3 linked regions of the Homo sapiens genome follow. The protein of the gene in region 2 interacts with the protein of the main gene of each other region in a pairwise test. Each region holds a gene or a part of one and is shown on either strand. Other genes may lie near its edges.

Region 1 (4,255 bases), on a different chromosome or scaffold from region 2:
TGTCCCTAGGCGCGAAGGCCACCCTGGCTGCTGTCACTGTCTTCGTGTCCATGATCGCCTCCCGCTCGTATCTGGCAGAGAGCCTTGAGCTCAGGGCCTGGCGTTGGCTGCTTCGCTTGCAGCTTGCCCTGTTTGTCAACTCGCTCTTGCTCATTGGCTCCCTCTACATTTGGCGCAGCACAGTGAGCAACCTCTGCCACTCCCCAGCTGCAGAGTCAACCTGTTTTCAGCTTTGGAAGGTGGTGGTTCTGGCATTTCTGGCCCTGGCCCATTCCAGTTTCTTTACCATGTTCTTTTTAGTGGCCGAAGAGCCCTATCTCTTTTCCTTGGCGGCCTACTCCTGCCTGGGTGCTTACATCATCATGCTCTTCTTCCTCTTCATCCTCAGCGGCATGGAGCAGGCCTACCAGCTCTTGGCCTGGCGCAGTGGTAGGGTCGTGGGCAGCCTTGAGAAGACAAGGAAGCTCGTGCTCAGGCCTGCCCTGGCAGTGGGAGTGACTGCTGTGCTCAGCGTGGCCGGGATTCTGAATGCCGCGCAGCCCCCGGCTGTGAAAACTGTGGAGGTGCCCATCCATCAGCTGCCTGCCTCAATGAACAACCTCAAGATCGTGCTCCTCTCAGACATTCACTTGGGCCCCACAGTGGGCAGGACCAAGATGGAAATGTTTGTGAGGATGGTGAATGTGCTGGAACCAGACATCACGGTGATTGTGGGTGACCTCTCCGACTCAGAAGCCTCGGTCCTGCGGACGGCTGTCGCTCCTCTGGGCCAGCTTCATTCACATCTCGGTGCCTACTTCGTCACAGGCAATCATGAGTACTACACGTCAGATGTCAGCAACTGGTTTGCACTTCTGGAATCCCTGCATGTCCAGCCTCTTCATAATGAGAACGTGAAGATTTCCGCCACACGGGCCCAACGTGGTGGTGGTGGCAGTGGCAGTGGGAGTGAGGATGAGGACTGGATCTGCTTGGCTGGGGTGGACGATATTGAAGCAGACATCCTGCACTACTCTGGCCATGGCATGGATCTTGACAAGGCCCTGGAGGGCTGCAGCCCAGACCACACAATCATCTTGCTAGCTCACCAGCCCCTGGCTGCCAAGAGAGCTCTCCAGGCTCGGCCAGATATTAACCTGATCCTTTCTGGGCACACACATGCTGGGCAGATCTTCCCCTTGAACGTAGCAGCCTATCTCCTGAATCCCTTCTTTGCTGGTCTCTACCAGGTGGCCCAGGCTACATTCGTGTATGTCAGCCCAGGCACAGCCTACTACGGGATACCCATGAGGCTGGGTAGCAGGGCCGAGATCACAGAGCTCATCCTGCAGCGGTCTCCCTGAACTGGCCCTGCCCTGTGCACCTCTGCCCTGCCCTTGTCCTCGACCCTCCATCCTGCTTCAGAGTGGTTTGCCTGCTTTTCCCCTCCAGCCTTGCCCACTCATCCTTGCCTACACACCCTTGGTCACAAGCCTGACTCAAACAGTGACTTATGGTGGGCCTGCCTGGCATGTTCAGGCTGGTTTAACTATTTCCTTGGCCAGTTGCTTTTTTTGATGCACTTGTGAGATCACTAAGGTCACATATATTAGCACTCCCCTCTATTTTCCAGATGATGTGGAATGGGGACCTTCTCCTGCAGAGCTCCCAGGGATGAACCTCCCCTCGGGGTTGCTAGAAAGGCATACCTCTAGAAGGTGGGGCGGGGAGGAGCAGGAGCATTTTTCTCCTGGTGTTTTAAAATTGTCTTTAGGACTTAAGTGGTTTCCAGAATCATTGATCCAGAGCCTTTCTGGGGAAGGGGTAGTGTTGCCAGGTAATTTGGGAGAACAGGCAAGATGGAAGGGCCCTCTGGCTGCTAGAGAAGAATATTTTCTTTTCCTCTGATTCTATCAGGATCACCTCTATTGAGGGCATCAGCAAAATCTACTGGAATGCAAAGCTCCTCCTGTTCCAGGCCTTGAGGGATGCTATTTAACTGTCTGTGCTCCTGGGCCTTTGGGGGCAAGGTCAGGGGAGAAGAACGGTGGGCGCCATGGTCGGTGATGGTGAGAACATGGCTGCTTAGGAATTCAGAGGGCTTTGCCTCCCTTGTCTCATTTTATACAACCCTTCGGGGAGCTCACTGGGGACAGGCTGCTTTTCCCTATTTGGAGATAAGGAAACCAAGGCAAAGAGAGATAGGGCACAGGCAGTATGACAAGATATGTAGGAGATTTGGGGCTAGAAACCAGGTCTTGTACCTCCCAGTAAAAGCGGTGCTTTTGCCCTTTTGCCAGAAGCAATAGATCCTTTGATCCTGAGATGGAGATAAGCACCCGTGTTAGAAAAGGCCTCACTGAGAAGACAGGGCTGGGCTGGTTTCCTGCTGGGTGATTTAGGCTTGTGATGGAAAGTCTTCCTCCAATGGGGAGTGAAGACACTCGCTCTGACTGGAGAGGCTAACCCTGCTGCTCACTCATAGGGCAGCGTTGGGTGGGTGACTTTCCCTCACTCAGCCTTGGTTTCCATCAACCCTAAAATGGGGATAATTATCGTATCTACCTCAAGATTGTTTTGTCAGGAGGGATCCATCAAGCCTTGTGCATGAGTTCCACATGGCACAGCGTGCACAGTAAACACTCAATGTTAATTTTTCAACGTTCCAGTGGAGCTTGCTAAGGAACTCTGTTGGGCACAGGTGCCCAGAGGATTCATGGAGCAGCCAGTCCTGGGGAATGTGAGTGGGTAGCGAGCTGCCTGCTGCTGGGGCAGGTGATGTGTCAAAGCAGCAACTGCTAGGGGTTTGCCTTCCTTCCCTCATGTGCATTCTGGCAGGCAAAGGGGGTTTCTTCCTTTCCTCCTTGTCCTCCTGGTGTATAGTGGGGTTCTGGGGGATCTGGAGACCACCCTTTTTGTTCCCAGGCAGCCACGGTATTGACAGTGGGCCATACCATGCAGTTTAAAATGTATCTTTGAGTTGAAATTTTGGTGGTTTCCTTATTCTTTTTTCTCTCTTCACTGTCCTTCCAAACTCACTTTTCTTGTGTCCCGACCGCATTTTGTGAATCATCCTTACTCCCTTTAAGTTCTCGCTTTGGATTTCACCAGGTGGGCTAGATGGTGCCATTTCACTTCCACTGTTTGATGCGGCTGGTAATGTTTGACTCACCTGTTACGTGTTATTTCACTGGTTTCTTGATTTTACATCTTTCTCATCAGTGACCTGGGCTTGATGAAATTAGCTTTCATTAAGTCCTATTTTTTTTTTAATTTTGCATCCTTACCTCTTTTCTTTCTCTTGAATGCCATCATTGTGTGGTCTTATGTACCCTTCATCCACTCTGAAGTCCTTGCTTGACTGATTGCTTTCTATTAGCAGAAAGAAAACAGGTCCATCCTATGTATCTGAGAAACAACATCAACACCCTCTCGTATGTGGTTTGTATTCCCTGACGCGGCGGACATTTTTGCAGCAGAAATTTCTCCATCACTGTCCAGATTCTGGCCCTGGTGGGCAGGTCTCCATGACACCTTTAGTCCCTTTGTTCAACATTCTTAAACCATGGACCTTTTTGTTTGTTTGTGGCCGGGGGAGGTGGTGAGAAACGTTACTTGAAGCTTGATCATTCTTTCAATTTCATTTGTTTCTTTATTTTTAATCTGTTAGATGCAAATTGAAATGCAATGCTTTTTGAAAATCAGCAATAGTGTCTGTAGTATATGATGCTGTCACAAAATCTCAATAAATTGATCCTGCTGCCATTCCTTCCAAATACCCATCCATGCTTTTCTTCCCCTCGTGTTTTGTTTGGTTTGTTTTAAACTTTTCGTACATGTACCTCTCTCCCAGCTTTAACAAGCATGACGAGACCACTCTGCCATCCTTTCTCAGCTACCCCTGCCCCACCTGTACTCTTTATTTTTTGGCTGGAGTATATTAAGGTAAATCATAGAAAACATAATGTTACCCCAAAATTACTTCAGTATGAATCCTTTTTCAAAAAGCATAGCTATAGTGTCATTATCATATCCAATGAAATTAACAGTGATTCTTGAATATCATCTAATAGCTAGTTAGGAGATTTGGGGCTAGTAGCCAGATTTTTGACCTCTTTAAAGAAGTGTTCTTTCCACTCTCTGAGTATTAAGTAGCTGTATCTGTCACAAATGAGTACAGAATTCAAATGCAGTTAACTGTGTGAAGAGTTAGTGTTTAGTTTTTCCTGATTATCTCAACTATATTTTTTATTGTGGCAAAAAAATTACTATCTTA
Region 2 (7,021 bases):
GCCTTGACCTCCTGGGCTCACATGACCCTCCTGCCTCAGCCTCCTGAGTAGCTGTGAGTACAGGCATACATCACCATGCCCAGCTAATTTTTTATTTTTTGTAGAGACAGGGTCTCGCTATGTTGCCTGGGCTGGTCTCGAACTCCTGGGCTCAAGCAATCCTTCCTTCCTCCTCGGTCTCCCACAGGCCTGGGATTACGGACATGAGCCACCATGCCTGGCTTTGAACCATCTTAGGGTCAGTTGGTTCAGACAGTGCAAAGACTGCTTCCCTGTGGCCTGACAGGAAAAGTATACCTCTCGGGAATGTTCCTCCTCAGATCAGACCCTCAATATGACAGCACTCGGCCCCAGCATGGGGTAGATCCATCCTGTAGATGGCGGCATCTCACAGTACAAGGGCTGCTGAGGCCAGCTCTACCCAAGGAGCTGAGAAAACCGCCTCCTAAACCCTCACCTACAATTGCTCCTGGCCCTCCCAGGGCAAAAAGAGAACAGACTTCCCCTGTGGGCCCCATCAGCCCTGCCCAGGGGACTGAGAGATCATGGAGCTTCCTTATTGATTCTCTTGTCCAGTGCTGCCCATAGGGAGTCCAAGGACCGACAGCATCTGCTTCCCCTGGGAATTAGTTAGAAATGCAGATTCTTGGGCCCCATCCCAGAATACTGAATCAGAATCTCTGGGAGTGGGGCCCAGCAATCTGTGTTTTGGGGTTTTGTTTTTCAAGTCAAGGTTCTCTCTCTGTCACCCAGCCTGGAGTGCAGTAGCATAATCAGAGCTCACTATAACCTCAAACTCCTGAGTTCAGGCAAGACCTCCTCCCGCCTCAGCCTCCCAGAATGCTGGGATTACGGGCATGAGCCTCCTCACCCGGCCCCAATCTGTGTTTTAACAGGCCCTGTGGGTGACTTCCATGCACTCAGGCGTTTCAGGGGCACCTGTTATCTCCAACTTCCTCATTTTAGGAATGGAGAAATTGAGAACAGATACAGGAAGCAACTTGTTGGTCAGCCAGGCAATGGCAGAGACCACACAAAAACTCCGCTTCCCAGCGTTCCTTCCACTTGAACTTTCAGTAACTTCCTTTCTTTCTTCCTTCGTTCATTCATTCCTTCACTCATTCATGCCTTCCACCTCCAATTACATGCTTTGGGCTGCAATGGAGGACCAGGCGTTTGGGGACAGCCTCACCCTTCTTCCCCATGTGGGGCTTTCTCAAGGCCAGAGGTCTAGGATTCAGGATTGTGGAAGCATCTGCTAGATCTCTTCCAGCTCACCCCTGGGTCTCCAATTCCAGCCCAGATAGGAGTCTGATGTAGGCTGCAGGCGGGCCCCACTCCCCAGCTCCTTCTGGTCTTCTTTTCCTCTTTCTTGGCACCTGGGGCTCTCTGTCCCATTCCTCACTGCCAATGTCTTGCTCTTGGGAGAGATGCAAGGGCTGGAGGCTGTTACTGTTCCATTTCCCAAAGGGATGAATGATCAAATTAAAGGCCCTTCCCAGCAATGGCTTTGCGCTGAAGGAGCCAGGACTAGGTCCAGACCAGGGTTCGCAAGTTAGCATCTTGAGCTGGATAATTCCTTGCTGTAGGGCTGTCCTGTGCATTGCAGAATGGTTAGCAGCATTCCTGGCCTCTCCCTAGCAGATGTCAGTAGAATTCCTCCACCAGGTTGTGACAACCAAAAATGTCTCCAGATATTGCCAAGTGTCCCCTCTGGGTGGTGTTGCCAGATAAGACAGAGAATGCCTGGTTACATTCTTTTTTTTCTTTTTCTTTTTTCTTTTTTTTTTTTTTTTGAGACAGAGTCTCACTCTGGAGCCCAAGCTGGAGTGCAGTAAGGCGATCTCGGCTCCCTGCAACCTCCGCCTCTGTGGCTCAAGCATTTCTCATGCCTCAGCCTCCTGAGTAGCTGGGACTACAACTACGCACCACCACACCCAGCTAATTTTTTGTATTTTAGTAGAGATGAGGTTTCACCATGTTGCCCAGGGTGGTCTTGAACTCTTGATCTCAGGCAGTCCATCTGCCTCTGCCTCCCAAAGTGCTGGGATAACAGGCGTGAGCCACCACGCTAGGCTGAGCATTCTAATCGCACATAAGCAACAAGTAATTTTTAGTGCCTGAATGTCTCAACTATTGTTGCATTACCTCACATACTTATTTTTGTGGTGAGAACACTTAAAATCTACTCTCCATCATCTTCAAGAATATAATTCATTGGGCCAGGTGGGGTGGCTCATGCCTGTAACATTTTTTACTTGAAGAATCTTGCAACTCTACCTCAGGGGCAAAATCTTTCTTCATTGGCCCAGATCAGGGTCTGGGGTGTGGGGAGCAGTTAGTGAGAGGATCTGATGAGATAATCATAGGCCATGAGTTTACAAGGGCAAAAACTTTGCCATAATCATCTCTGTATCCTTAGAATATAATGGCGTCTCATTAAATATTTTATCTGAGAGTGGGTGTGAGGACACTTGGAACTATATCAGATACCATACCTGAGTACATCCAGCCCAGGACTGGACATTAGGGACATACTCCCTAATAAATATAAACTGAAGATAATGTTTAGTTTGACTCACATAGCATTTTTTAAAGGTGTGACTTTGGGCTTTACATTCTAAAATTGGCAACTGGCTGAGCATGGTGGCTCATGCCTGTAATCCCAACACTTTTGGAGACTGAGGCGGGAGGATTTGCTTGAGCCCAGGAGTTCAAAACCAAGCTAGGCAACATAGTGAGACCCCCATCTATACAAAAAAATTAAAAAAAAAAAATAGCCAGGTGTGGTGGCACATGCCTGTTCTGCCGGCTACCTGGAAGGCTGAGATGGGAGGATCACTGGAACCCAGGAATTTGAGGCTGCAGTGAACTATGATCGTGCCGCTGTACTCCAGCCTGGGCAACAGAGCGAGACCCTGCCTCAAAAAATTAAAATAAAATAAAATAAAGTAAAATAAAATAAACAGGAAGTGGCTGGGCGTGGTGACTCACCCTGTAATCCTAGCACTTTAGGAGGCCAAGGTGGGTGGATCACTTGAGGTCAGGAGTTCAAGACCAGCATGGTCAACATGGCAAAACCCTGTCTCTACTAAAACTACAAATTAGCTGGAGGTGGTTGTGTGCACCTGTAGTCCCAGCTACTCAGGAGGCTGAGGCAGGAGAGTTGCTTGAACCCAGGAGGCAGAGGTTGCAGTGAACCGAGATTGCGCCATTGCACTCCAGCCTGGGCAATAGAGCGAGACTTGGTCTCAAAACAAAAACAAACAAACAAAAAACAAAACACACACACACACACACACACAGGAAGCTATCACATAAGTCAAGATTTCTGGTATCTCTTGAAAAATACAGCACAACTTCCAAATGCTTGGAATATCTGACAATTTGCCTATACTCCCAAGCAGAAAAGCTTGGCTGGAACTAAGAGGTACCTGCCCCTCTCTACTGGCCCAGATCAGGGTCTGGGGTGTGGGGCAGATACCTCTCAGCTGGGCCAGTAGAGAGGGTCAGGTACCTCTCAGCTCCAGCCAAGCTTTTCCACTTGGGTCCTGTGTTCCCCCTATTACCCACAGTCCCTACCACTCCCTATTGCCCCACACCAGGATCCATCACCCATTATGTTAATCTGCCTGTAGGCATTTGCATTTCAAAGCTCTGGCCTAGTGGTGAAGAGGCATTGGAATGGCATGTCCTTTTAGGTGATCTACTGTAATGTTGGTGCATTATCCCCATTTTACAGATAAAGAAACTTGCCTTTGGGGAAGTTAAGTGAATCAACATTTTAACGAGGCTGTATTAGAACCCAAGTCCCTTGACTCCAGGGTCTAGGCCCATGCCCCACCCTGGCCAGAGTTCGTTGTAAGAGATAACTCAACCGCAGGGGCAAGAGCATTGTGGCACCAGGGACCTGGAGGGGAAGTGGTAACAGGCACGGAAGGCCAGACCTCCTCACACTCACTCATCTGTGAGAAAGTACAAAAGCAAGAGAAAGCTGGCTTGGGGTGGCACTCAACAGGTGCTCTGAGTGGCACCCACGGCCAGGTCCTGGGAGAGGACAGAAAACAACTGGGACTCCTCAGCCCCCGGCAGCTCCCAGTGCCCAGCCACCCACAACACAACCGTGAGTAGCTTTTTTTGTTGTTTATTTTAGGCTTCTTCCTCATTCCCCAACACCTGTATTCTTTTTTGTTTGTTTGTTTGTTTTTGAGACGGAGTTTTGCTCTGTTGACCAGGCTAAAGTACAGTGGCACAATCTCGGCTCAGTGCAGCCTCACAGGTTCAAGCGATTCTCCTGCCTCAGCCTCCCGTGTAGTTGGGATTACAGGTGTGCACTACTGCGTCTGGCTAATTTTTGTATTTTTAGTAGAGACAGGGTTTCACCATGTTGGCCAGGCTGGTCTCGAACTCCCGACTTCAGGTGATCTGCCCACCTTGGCCTCCCAAAGTGCTGGGATTACAGGCATGAGCCACTGCACCTGGCCAAAACCTGTATTCTTACCTTATCCCTTCCCTCCAGGGACACAAGAAGCCAGGTGGGCCTGTCTGGGGCAGGGGATAGATGTCATTTCAGGACACCTGGGGTTGTGGAGGACCAGTCGCAGGAAAGTTCAGGGCTGGCATCCCCCTCCTAGGACCAAGAATCAGGACTTTGGCTTTCATTTCATTACAGAGACAAGAATCACACACACAGAGATGGCCTTACTGTGTGCCAGGCGCTGCCCTAAGAGCCTTTAGTGGTTGGATTTATTTAATCCTCACAACAGCCGTATGCAGTAGGAGCTATCACTGTTGTCCACTTGATAGGTGGGGGCTAGGTGACCCACCTGAAATCATGCGGGCATTGAATGAGAGCATTGGCTTGAGCCTAGGCACTCCGGCTTCGCGGCCCACCCTTCAGCCACCAGGCTATCCTGCCTTACGAGGTGTGGACTGCAACAGTAGATGGGGGCCAGGAAATGACAGGGGCTGGCAGAGGCCTTTGAGATGACCAGGTGAGTCCTGCGCTCTCATTTTATAGATGGGGAGACCACAAGGTAGTGTTAGGGGCACACTGGACTCAGGAGGCCAGGGGTCTGCTTTGGTGTAAGTTCCACTCAGCGGAGGGAAGAGCAGTATTTTCCAGTGTGCCCTGGGGTCAGCGTCCAGGTCTGAATCCCAGCTCTGCCACTGGTAGCTCGATGGCCTAATGCAAATCACTCCATTTCTTTCCTGCTCAGCTTCCTCTTCTGAGAAACATGGGCCTGAGAAGGTCACTCACAGGCTTGTTGCGAGTCAACTGTCTGATGCGGGCACAGGGCGGGCAGCAGCACAGGGCTCGGGAATGGCTGTGGTGGAGAGTTTGATCTTCACCCCATCTGCTCTTGCTGTGGATCTGAGATGAGGATAAAATGAGGCCTGGCTGCTTTTCCCTGGAATGAGTGGCAAGTAGACACGTTGGCAGCATGAAAACCAGGATGGAGGCTGGGGAGAAGTTCAGGGAGAGCTCAGGAGGTGGAGTCCCAATAATCCTGGCCCCAGCTCTGTAACCACCTTGTGGCTTACCAGAGTGACCCCCTAACCTGCGCTGGGCAGGTGAAGCATATCCTTTACCCTTTGGCCGGCTAAGGCCAGGATAAGGCAGTGAAGACGGGAAAATGGCAGCCTGGCTCAGCCAAGCAGAGCCCTCCAGCGCCAGCCCCCTCTCTTCCCACCTCATTTTACAGTACCAGTCACTCTTACTGCACACCCTCGGGTGTGCATAAATTGATCTTTTCTTTATTCAGTTGAAGTCACATTCAATAGGACCCTGAGCCTCATCCTACTGGGCTAGGAGGAAATTTAATCTCCAAGTGCACTGAGCTTCCCTCACTCCCATCCCCACCCATGCACATTGACCCAGAGGACACACAGAACATAAGCGTGAGGGAGGCTCCTGGGTCCTCCTACGATGGATGCCCATTGCCCAAATGGACTTGATTGTCTGAAGTCCAGCCTTGCCCACTTCCCTGGCATGCCTGGAGTCCAGATTCTTTGTAAGACCTGAAACCACTGTGTCTCATTTTGACATCCAGGATATATCACCCAGTGACTTCCCCCAGAGGTCCTGCCATCTTCCCAGAAAGCAAATTCTAGGTGCCCAAGACCTCGGTCCCCTCCCAGCCAAGGACAATCTCTCCTCTCCCCTTGGCTGTGGATGGCAGATGGACACTCTTCTCTCCCCACCCCCCACCCACGTGACCTAACCTTCTCACTGCGCTCAGGTTCTCAGGAAAGGACAGGAAGAAGGGTTGTCTTCAAATAGCTTCTGCTTCCTACTCTCACCCCTGAAAAAAGTCCCCGAGCCACGAGACACAAAGGGCACTCTGAAAAGAGACAGGCAGCCCTATCTTACAGATGAGAAAAACCAAGACTCAGCAGCAGTGTTGACTTGCTCAGTGTCACACAGCCAAGGAATAGCGGAGCCAGTGTGAGCAGAGAGTCCTGCGCTGTGGGTTCAGAGCTTGTGCTATCAATCACATGGAATCACATGGAAACCCAAGTCTCCCTCATCAATTACTCAGGCAACCTGGGGCAAGTTACATCACCTTTCTGAACCTCAGTTTCTTCAACTCTAAAAATGACGCTATCATAGCATTCCCAACCTGCCTCAAAGGGGCTCTTGTTTTTTGTTTTTTGTTTTTTTGTTTTGTTTTCTTTTCTTTTCTTTCTTTTTTTTTTTTTTTTTTTTTTTTTGAGACAGCGTTTTGCTCTTGTTGCCCAGGCTGGAGTATAATGGCGTAATCTCAGCTCATTGCAACCTCTGCCTCCTGGGTTCAAGCGATTCTCCTGCCTCAGCCTCCCAAGTAGCTGGGATGACAGGCATGCACCACCACGCCCGGCTAATTTTGTATTTTTAGTAGGGATGGGGTTTCTGCATGTTGGCCAGGCTGGTCTCGAGCTCCCGATCTCAGGTGATCCGCTCTTGTTTTTTTCTTAAGCGAAGATTGATGAAGCATTTACTACACATTTGAGCTCTGTGACCGTTCCTCATTAAGTCCTC
Region 3 (7,835 bases), on a different chromosome or scaffold from region 2:
TCCTTACAACTCAACAACTGACGCCCTCACACTGTTATCAGAACATCTGACCTTGTCACACCCTCCTTAACATCTCTGATTTCTTCGACATATCTGCAGGTGGGGTGGGGGTGGAATCGGGTATGTGTGGTGACCCTGAGAGTTGGTTAAAAGTGCTCTGGAGGCTGGGTGCAGTGGCTCACACCTGTAATCCCAGCACTTTGGGAGGCCGAAGCGGGCGGATCATGAGATCAGGAGATCGAGACCATCCTGGCTAACATGGTGAAACCCCATCTCTACTAAAAATACAAAAAGTTAGCTGGATGTGGTGGTGGGCGCCTGTAGTCTCAGCTACTCGGGAGGCTGAGGCAGCAGAATGGCGTGAACTGGAGAGGCGGGGCTTGCAGTGAGCTGAGATTGCGTCACTGCACTCTAGCTTGGGCGACAGAGCGAGACTCTGTCTCAAAAAAAAAAAAAAAAAAAAGTGCTCTGGAGGCCTGAAACAGAAAAGAAATTAGCTGAGATCCAGCATCAGGTTGGGAATAAGATAATCAGTTTAGGGCTGGATTATGATTTCAAGCAGGACAAACTAAGTGAGGAAAAATATCCTGTGGCAAAACAACAGAGGTCAGAGATGAAGGAGGCCACTGGGTGAGAAGAAGCCCCATGGGGGAAGCGAGGCAAGCTCAGAATGATGATGGGTCATCATTTCTGTGCATTGCCCATGTCGCTGGTGGATGACAGCGGGCACAATTAGAGATGCTAAGGAACAGAGGACAATTGGTTTAGTGTCATCTACTATGTCAAGTCTAAACTTCTTAGTAGAACCTTCATTTTTATTTTTATTTATCTATTTATTTTGAGACAGAGTCTTGCTCTTGTTGCCCAGGCTGGAGTGCAGTGGCACAATCTCGGTTCACTGCGACCTCTGCCTCTTGGGTTCAAGCGATTCTCCAAGTAGCTGGGATTGAAGGTGCCCACCACCACACCCAGCTAATTTTTTTTATTTTTAGTAGAGACGGGGTTTCATCATGTTGGCCAGGCTGGTCTTGAACTCCTGACCTCAGGTGATCTGCCCACCTTGGCCTCTGAAAGTGCTGGGATTACAGGCATGAGCCACCGCGCCTGGCTGAGTAGAATCTTCAAGATCTGAGTTGGCTCATGCTTCTTCAGTTTCACCTTCTCACTCCCCAGCTCGAATCAGTACTACAGATATTTCCCTGAATTCAGTGTGTCTCTTGTGCTCTTATGTACACATGCAATTCCCTCTGCCTAGAATGGCATATACATTGGTGTCTGCTCAATAAAGACTAACTCGTTCTTCTAGATTTAACTCTAGCTCCTGCAATTGCTCCAGGTGTAATTTATAATTCTGATGTCTTTTTTTAATGCCACCTGTGACACCTTCATACTTCATTAGGTCAGCTACCACATTGAATAATTGTTTACTTGCCTGTCTGAAATGAACTGTGAGCTCCATAAGGATAGAGAATATATTTTACTCAATATTTTACACCCCAGAACCTAATACAGTGGTTAGCACATATTAGGTGCACTGTAAACATTTGTTGGATGAATGAGTGAGTGAATGGGCTCACAAGCACAGGGAAAATTACAAAGCTGTGTGAAAAGGGCCATGCCAATAGGTTGGAAAGGAAGAAATGCCAGTTCCTACCAAAAGGGAGAAATGCCCATTTTCAGGAAGCCTTATCCCACTTTCTGCCTCCTGCAATATGCAATTCAAAATAAAAACACTAGTAAATAGTAAACACTAGTAAATAGTAAATGAAAATTTACTTTTGAAACAACAAATCTCAACCATATGAATGAAGTCAGAATAAGCTCTTTCTCTTTGGGAAGAGGGTGGTGCCCTTGCTTTGTGGGTGCCTATATCAGCCAGGGTACTGGCACACTCAATAATTTAACTGAAGAGAATTTAATGACTATTTGCAGAGACGAAACTAGCCATGGGTGAGGAGGCACCTAAAGACTAGCAATAGCACTGGGCACAGTAGCTCATGCCTGTAATCCCAGCACTTTGGGAGGCCGAGGCGGGTGGATCACCTGAGGTCAGGAGTTCGAGAGCAGCCTGACCAACATGGTAAAACCCCATCTCTACTAAAAATACAAAATTAGCCGGGCGTGGTGGCACATACCTGTAATCCCAGCTACCAGGGAAGCTGAGGCAGGAGAATCGCTTGAACCCAGGAGGCAGAGGTTGCAGTGAGCATAGATCACACCACTGCATGGCAGCCTGGGGGACAGAGCAAGACCCTGTCTCAAAAAAAAAAAAAAAAAAAAAAGACTAGCAACAGCAGGAAACTGTTGCCACCCCTGGCCTGAAGGTATGGGGAGGGAGCCTGGGGCTGTAGCCATGGAGAAGCAGGCCACAGCCAGAATCTCAGCCTGGTCCATCAGGCCTCGTCCATGTTCTCATCTCCTGCCTCTGAATTTCATTGGCTGAACTCAGCCAGAAGCCAGGGCCCTGGTGATCCCTGAAGATACAGTCCATAGAGCTCAGGCTCCCAGGACAGGGTAGAGAAGAGCCAAGAATGAATCTAGGTGGTGGGAAGGCAAATGGAGAAAAACCGGCATTGAGGGGGGATGCCTCTGCTTTGTAGGCGACTTGTGTATATGATTAGTTTGCCTACTGGGTAATCAAGCACTGAGTGGAACCCTGTAGATGGGAGTTCTAAGTCTCATGTTTTGTATTGTTAGGTATTTGTATGTGCAAGCTTCTTAGAACTGGTGCCACTAATTAGTAGGTCTTGGGTGGGGCAACGGCATCTATGTTTTTAAAAGCTTTCCAAGTAATTTTGATAGGTACCACTTGTTGAGAACCACGGATATAGTCCACCTTCTCATTTTTATAGAGAGGCAAACTAAGGTCTAGAGAAATGAAAAATGCCCTGACTTGGCAAATTTCTGTTTGAGAACTATCCCTCAGGTGATGTTAGAGGGTTTGGCTGGAAAACTGGAATATTTGCACCTTCTACTAGCCCATTTCCTCCATTTTATTCATGAGAAATCTGAAGCTCCAAAGATGGAATGATGTGCTCAATTATACACCACAGTAGTGAGTCATGGAGAAGGAAGCACTAGGACTAAGAATGGCATTTCTAACTCTCAAGCCAGTGTTCTCTCTAGGCAGCACACTTGGTAGAAATGTGTGTGTGTGTGTGTGTGAGTGACAAAGCCCTGGGGCAGCAGTTATAGTCCTTCATTCTGGTAAGGTGCTCTCCCCAAAGCCCCTAACTGGAAAGAAAGAGGAGTAGGCAGAGGTCATTGACCCTTAGAACTCTATGCTGGAGGGGACTGGAGGGGATGGGGGGAAGATCTGGGTGACTCCTGTCCCAAGCCTTGACTCTCACTCTTGTTGTACTGGACTCTGAATCTCTGGTTGCCAATTCTGTCACCAGAAGAGGACTATCACCCCTCTGAATGGGTGTTGGGACTTTAGGGAAAACTGGGTAGGATCCAGAAGGAAAAGGAAGAGACCCATTGTGGGAGGGGCTTACAGGAGACTTCAGCCTGTCGGTCTCTGCCCAAACAGCACAAGGCTCAGGACCAGCACAAGGGCCTGTGTCACCATGCCAGGATGTTTGAAACTCCTTTTTGGCTGCTAATTAGGGCTGGTCACCCCTTTCCCATCAATTCCCAAAGCCTGACACACAGCTACTGCCCTTCTACAGTAGCTTACAGACTACTTGCCCATCCTTTGAGATACAGCTGAAATCTCCATCTCCAGGATTGCTAGACTTAAATTTCCTAAAACCAGCAGCCCTTCCTCTTCCCCAACCTACACATGTCAGAGTTGGGTGGAACCTTAGAACTCACCCGCTCATCTTCTAAGTGAGGAAATCAAGACCAGAGAGGGGAAGTGATTCACCCAATCTAACAGCATGGAAGTGGCAAAACTGGGACTAGATTTCAGTCCATCTGGCCACCTACCTCTCCATGTAATTCCAATGATTCTGAACATGCACCGCTCTGAATGAGCTTGTGTTCCTTTAGTCTACGTAAAATCAACATTAAATCCACTTGGGACGTATTTTTGGCAAAGTTAGCTCACGCTTCTTTGGGTCTGCCTGTCTGTCATTCTTGGGGTGCTCTTGTATGTGTGGCAGTGGTCTCTGAGTTGTAAGAGGTGTGTGCCTACGGCCAATTATCTGTGTTTGTTTCTATATTAGGGTCATGGGTCTACGAGCTGCTGTAGAGTCCCTGTATATGTCTCTTTTCTTACATGGAGCATATATGTCAATTTGTGGTTGTTGGTTTTGGATCTGTGTACTTGTTGAGTGCTTAAGGGTAATTATGATTCTGTATGTGTGATGTATATGCTACGATTATGGGTCCATGGCTGCTGCATACCTATATACGTGCCGCTTTTCAAGTCGAAGGTTGTGTGTTTGCTGATGATTTGGATGTGTGTTTGTACACAGTGAAGGTTGTGAGTCCAATTGCAATCGTATCGGCGTGGACTGCATGTTTAAAGGCTTAAGGGAATCTGTCTTTGCCTTTTGCTCCCGGGTTATGAGAAAATGTATGTGGCTGTGCGTCCAGGACAGCAATGTGTTTGTCTCTCAGCCAAGCTCAGTCCTCACCCAGGCACCGGGGTCACGGTCACGTTCACGTTCCGTGGACGCCTTGGCACGGCCTCCCAAGGGGGCGGGGCCTGGGGGGTATCCGCCTTCTGACCCCTGGGAGATGCCTCCTTTCTCCGAGCAGCAGCCGGGGGCCTGGCCGGCGCCGCCAGCCGGGCCCCGCCCCCCCGGCTCCCGCCCGCTCATTGGCCCTGGCAGCGGTGACGTCACGGGGCTAGCTGACAGAACCCCGGCGCCGGGCGCTCGGGAGGTATTGTCCGTCCCTCCGGGCTTTGTAGAATCGTCGCCGGCTTACCTGGCCGTGGGCGCGTCCTGGCCGCTGCAGCCCGGAGCAGGGTGCCAGCCGCCGCCGCCGCCGCCATGGTGTCCCCGGTCACTGTGGTGAGTGAGCGAGCGAGCGAGCCAGTGCCCGGCGCGGCTGGAGCCCACCGGCCTGGCCACCGGACTTCGGCAGGCCGAGCTGCCGAAGGGGCCGAGGCGGGGCGGGGGTCCCGTGGCGGCCGGAGTCCCGCGGCGGGAGGCGGGCGCTGTCACCGCCCCCCGCTCCTCAGACTCGCGGCGCCCCTCCTCGCGCGCCCCCAGCCCGCCCGCGGAGGGAGGAAAACACTGGCCACGTGACTCGGAAGCGTGACTTTGTTGATCTCCATGTATTTGGCGCGGGTCGGCGGGGTCGCGGCCCGGGAGAGGGAGGGGACCGCTGCCGGCCGCAGAGTTCCGCGTAGGCGGACCACAGGGAGGCGTGGGGGCGGGGGATGCTGGGAGGATAACAGGGACCTCCTGGGAATGCCGTCCCAAGTTTGTTTCCTAACCTTCCTCATTTTGTAAACAAGTTGGCGGACGCCCCTGAGTCTAAGAAGCGCTGATAACGCGCTGGGGGAAAAGGGGGCATTCTCTATGACATCCCCTGCTTTTCAGACTTTCTCAACTTGAACCTTTTGTTTCGTCTCCCCATCCTCCTTATTCTACTACTGGGTTCCCTATAACTGTCAGGGTCTCTCCAGCTACTGCCAGTATCTCCTTCTAGAAAATATGGGGCTGGGAGAGGCCATGGAGCGGAGGTTAATGCTCCCAGGGGCTGGCAGGTGGTTGCTGGGCATTGTGGGCCTGGGCATCCCCTCCAGCCGCCTCCTCTGACCATGCCCCTACCCTGACCAGCCTTAATTTCCATGGGAAGTGGAAGTCATCTCTTCTCACTGCTCTTACCTCTGGCAGAACAAGGAAAGGCTTGGACCCTGGAACCACCCATCCGCCTCTTCCCAATCCTCCTCATCACAGTCTGATCAGTCCTTAGGTACCTGGTCGTCTGGACTCTGAGTGTTTCCCAAGTCCTGTGCTGGGCAGCTCACCTAGCCAGAGACACAATCGCTTTGGGCAGAGTGTGGGTGTACAGGGAACTCCAGCTGCTCCATATCACCCTCAATGGATCTGTTAGCAGCCCAAGGAAAGGAGTTTCAAGGATCACAGATTCAGAACATCGCTGCAGCCCCCTCCCCCAGCTTGGACTCTGCCTGCAGTGGCCTTGGGTACAACCTTTCTTTAGCTGCCCTCTGCTAATCCGGCTGAGACCAAGTCAGCTGCTCTAACTTCCCCCTCTCAGTTCCCCATCTCCCAGCCTGTCTGCTGGCTCCAGATCAGAAGCTGGGAATAGAACCTCTCCCCCCTTTCCTGCCTCTTTCTGGTGTGGCTTGAGTTGCTCTTGTTCTCTGGGAAATGAGGCTGACTGACACACACCCTCCCTTCCCCCAATCCTTGAAATCTTTGGTGTTTGAAGGACAATTTTCTTGCTCCCAACTCATGGGTCCATTTATCTAGCCAGCATCCCTAGCATAGCCCTCCTTGCCCTTGATGCCACCTTCAGGCTGGGGCAGGTGGAGTGGAGGCTGAGGAACAGACTGGTTGAGGAGGAGAGAGGCTGTGGTGGCTGAGGTGATTGCCATTGCCTGCTTTCCCACATTCCTGGCACACACCTGGTGTTGCCAGGGCCCTAAGGCTGCACCCTGGCCCCATGCTGAGGATCACGAGTTGGCCAGTCAGGGTGTCTCTGTGGTTTCCCACTGACTTCACTCCATTCCAGAGTGAACAGCTGGGGGCTGTTGCTGGCAGAGAGGAGGGGCTAAAGGGGCCCTGAGGAGGGAGAAGGAGGGGGCAGGAAGGGAGAAGCACACTAGGCTGCAGAAGGGTGCCCCTCCTAATATACTGAGCCTCAGGGCAGTAATGGGTTTGGCCACAACCTGCTGGCTGGTAGAGGCAGGCCAGGCTGGGTTTCTCTGTGTCAGTCTTCTCAGGTTGGGGGTGGAAGTGAGGTGGGGGTATGGATGGGAGTGTCTCTGGGGTGGATGCCTAGGCTGAGGGTGCTGGCTTTCAACCCCCAAGTTCTGAGTGCTGCCCTTGTCCTGTGTCCTCCAGGTGAAGAGTGAAGGACCCAAACTGGTGCCGTTCTTCAAGGCCACCTGCGTGTATTTTGTGCTCTGGCTGCCCTCATCTAGCCCATCGTGGGTCAGCACCCTCATCAAGTGCCTGCCTATCTTCTGCCTCTGGCTCTTCCTTCTGGCCCATGGCCTGGGATTCCTGCTGGCCCACCCCAGCGCCACCCGCATCTTTGTGGGGCTTGTCTTCTCTGCTGTAGGTGACGCCTTCCTCATCTGGCAGGACCAAGGATACTTCGTGCATGGTCAGTGGCCATAGTAGTTGCCTGGGAGGAGTCCTGGGGCTGGGGGATAGAGGGTCCTGGGCTGTGGGCAAAGATTTGGAAGAGGGAGTTCTTGAACCAGAGTGTGGGGAGCCTGAGGGTTTCTGAGGCCAGGGACTGTGAGGGTCCTTGTTAGGGGATGACCTCGCAGGGGAACTAGTGATCAGTTCCAGAGTCCTTCAGGGGACTGGGGTGGTGGTCTTTAACTTTAGATCTTCCTACCCCTGTTATCCCAAAGCAAAGCTGCTGGGTTATCCCAAACACTCCACTCCATCGCCACATCCATCCCTACCCCCACCCTGTTACTCATTCTTCATCAAGCTTGCCCTCAGCTGCCTTTGCCCCTCTTACCCCCAGGTCTGCTGATGTTTGCTGTGACCCACATGTTCTACGCCTCGGCCTTTGGCATGCAGCCACTGGCTCTTCGGACAGGTCTGGTGATGGCAGCGCTGTCGGGCCTGTGCTATGCCCTCCTCTACCCATGCCTCTCAGGTGCCTTCACCTACCTGGTGGGGGTCTATGTGGCCCTTATCGGCTTCATGGGCTGGCGAGCTATGGCAGGG

Evidence for each region.
Region 1: the proteins of CNR2 (region 2) and TMPPE interact in binary tests that used the Homo sapiens proteins (3 or more experiments, as listed by UniProt).
Region 3: the proteins of CNR2 (region 2) and TMEM86A interact in binary tests that used the Homo sapiens proteins (3 or more experiments, as listed by UniProt).

What each region holds. Positions count from the first base shown.
Region 1 is NC_000003.12:33,089,922-33,094,176, reverse strand, and holds the end of TMPPE (transmembrane protein with metallophosphoesterase domain), read left to right. Parts: coding exon 1-1,343; 3' UTR 1,344-3,755; downstream 3,756-4,255.
Region 2 is NC_000001.11:23,910,348-23,917,368, reverse strand, and holds the start of CNR2 (cannabinoid receptor 2), read left to right. Parts: upstream 1-4,006; 5' UTR 4,007-4,123; intron 4,124-7,021. UniProt on the Homo sapiens protein: Heterotrimeric G protein-coupled receptor for endocannabinoid 2-arachidonoylglycerol mediating inhibition of adenylate cyclase. May function in inflammatory response, nociceptive transmission and bone homeostasis.
Region 3 is NC_000011.10:18,693,944-18,701,778, forward strand, and holds the start of TMEM86A (lysoplasmalogenase TMEM86A), read left to right. Parts: upstream 1-4,835; 5' UTR 4,836-4,943; coding exon 4,944-4,964; intron 4,965-6,989; coding exon 6,990-7,254; intron 7,255-7,629; coding exon 7,630-7,835. UniProt on the Homo sapiens protein: Catalyzes the hydrolysis of the vinyl ether bond of choline or ethanolamine lysoplasmalogens, forming fatty aldehyde and glycerophosphocholine or glycerophosphoethanolamine, respectively and is specific for the sn-2-deacylated (lyso) form of plasmalogen.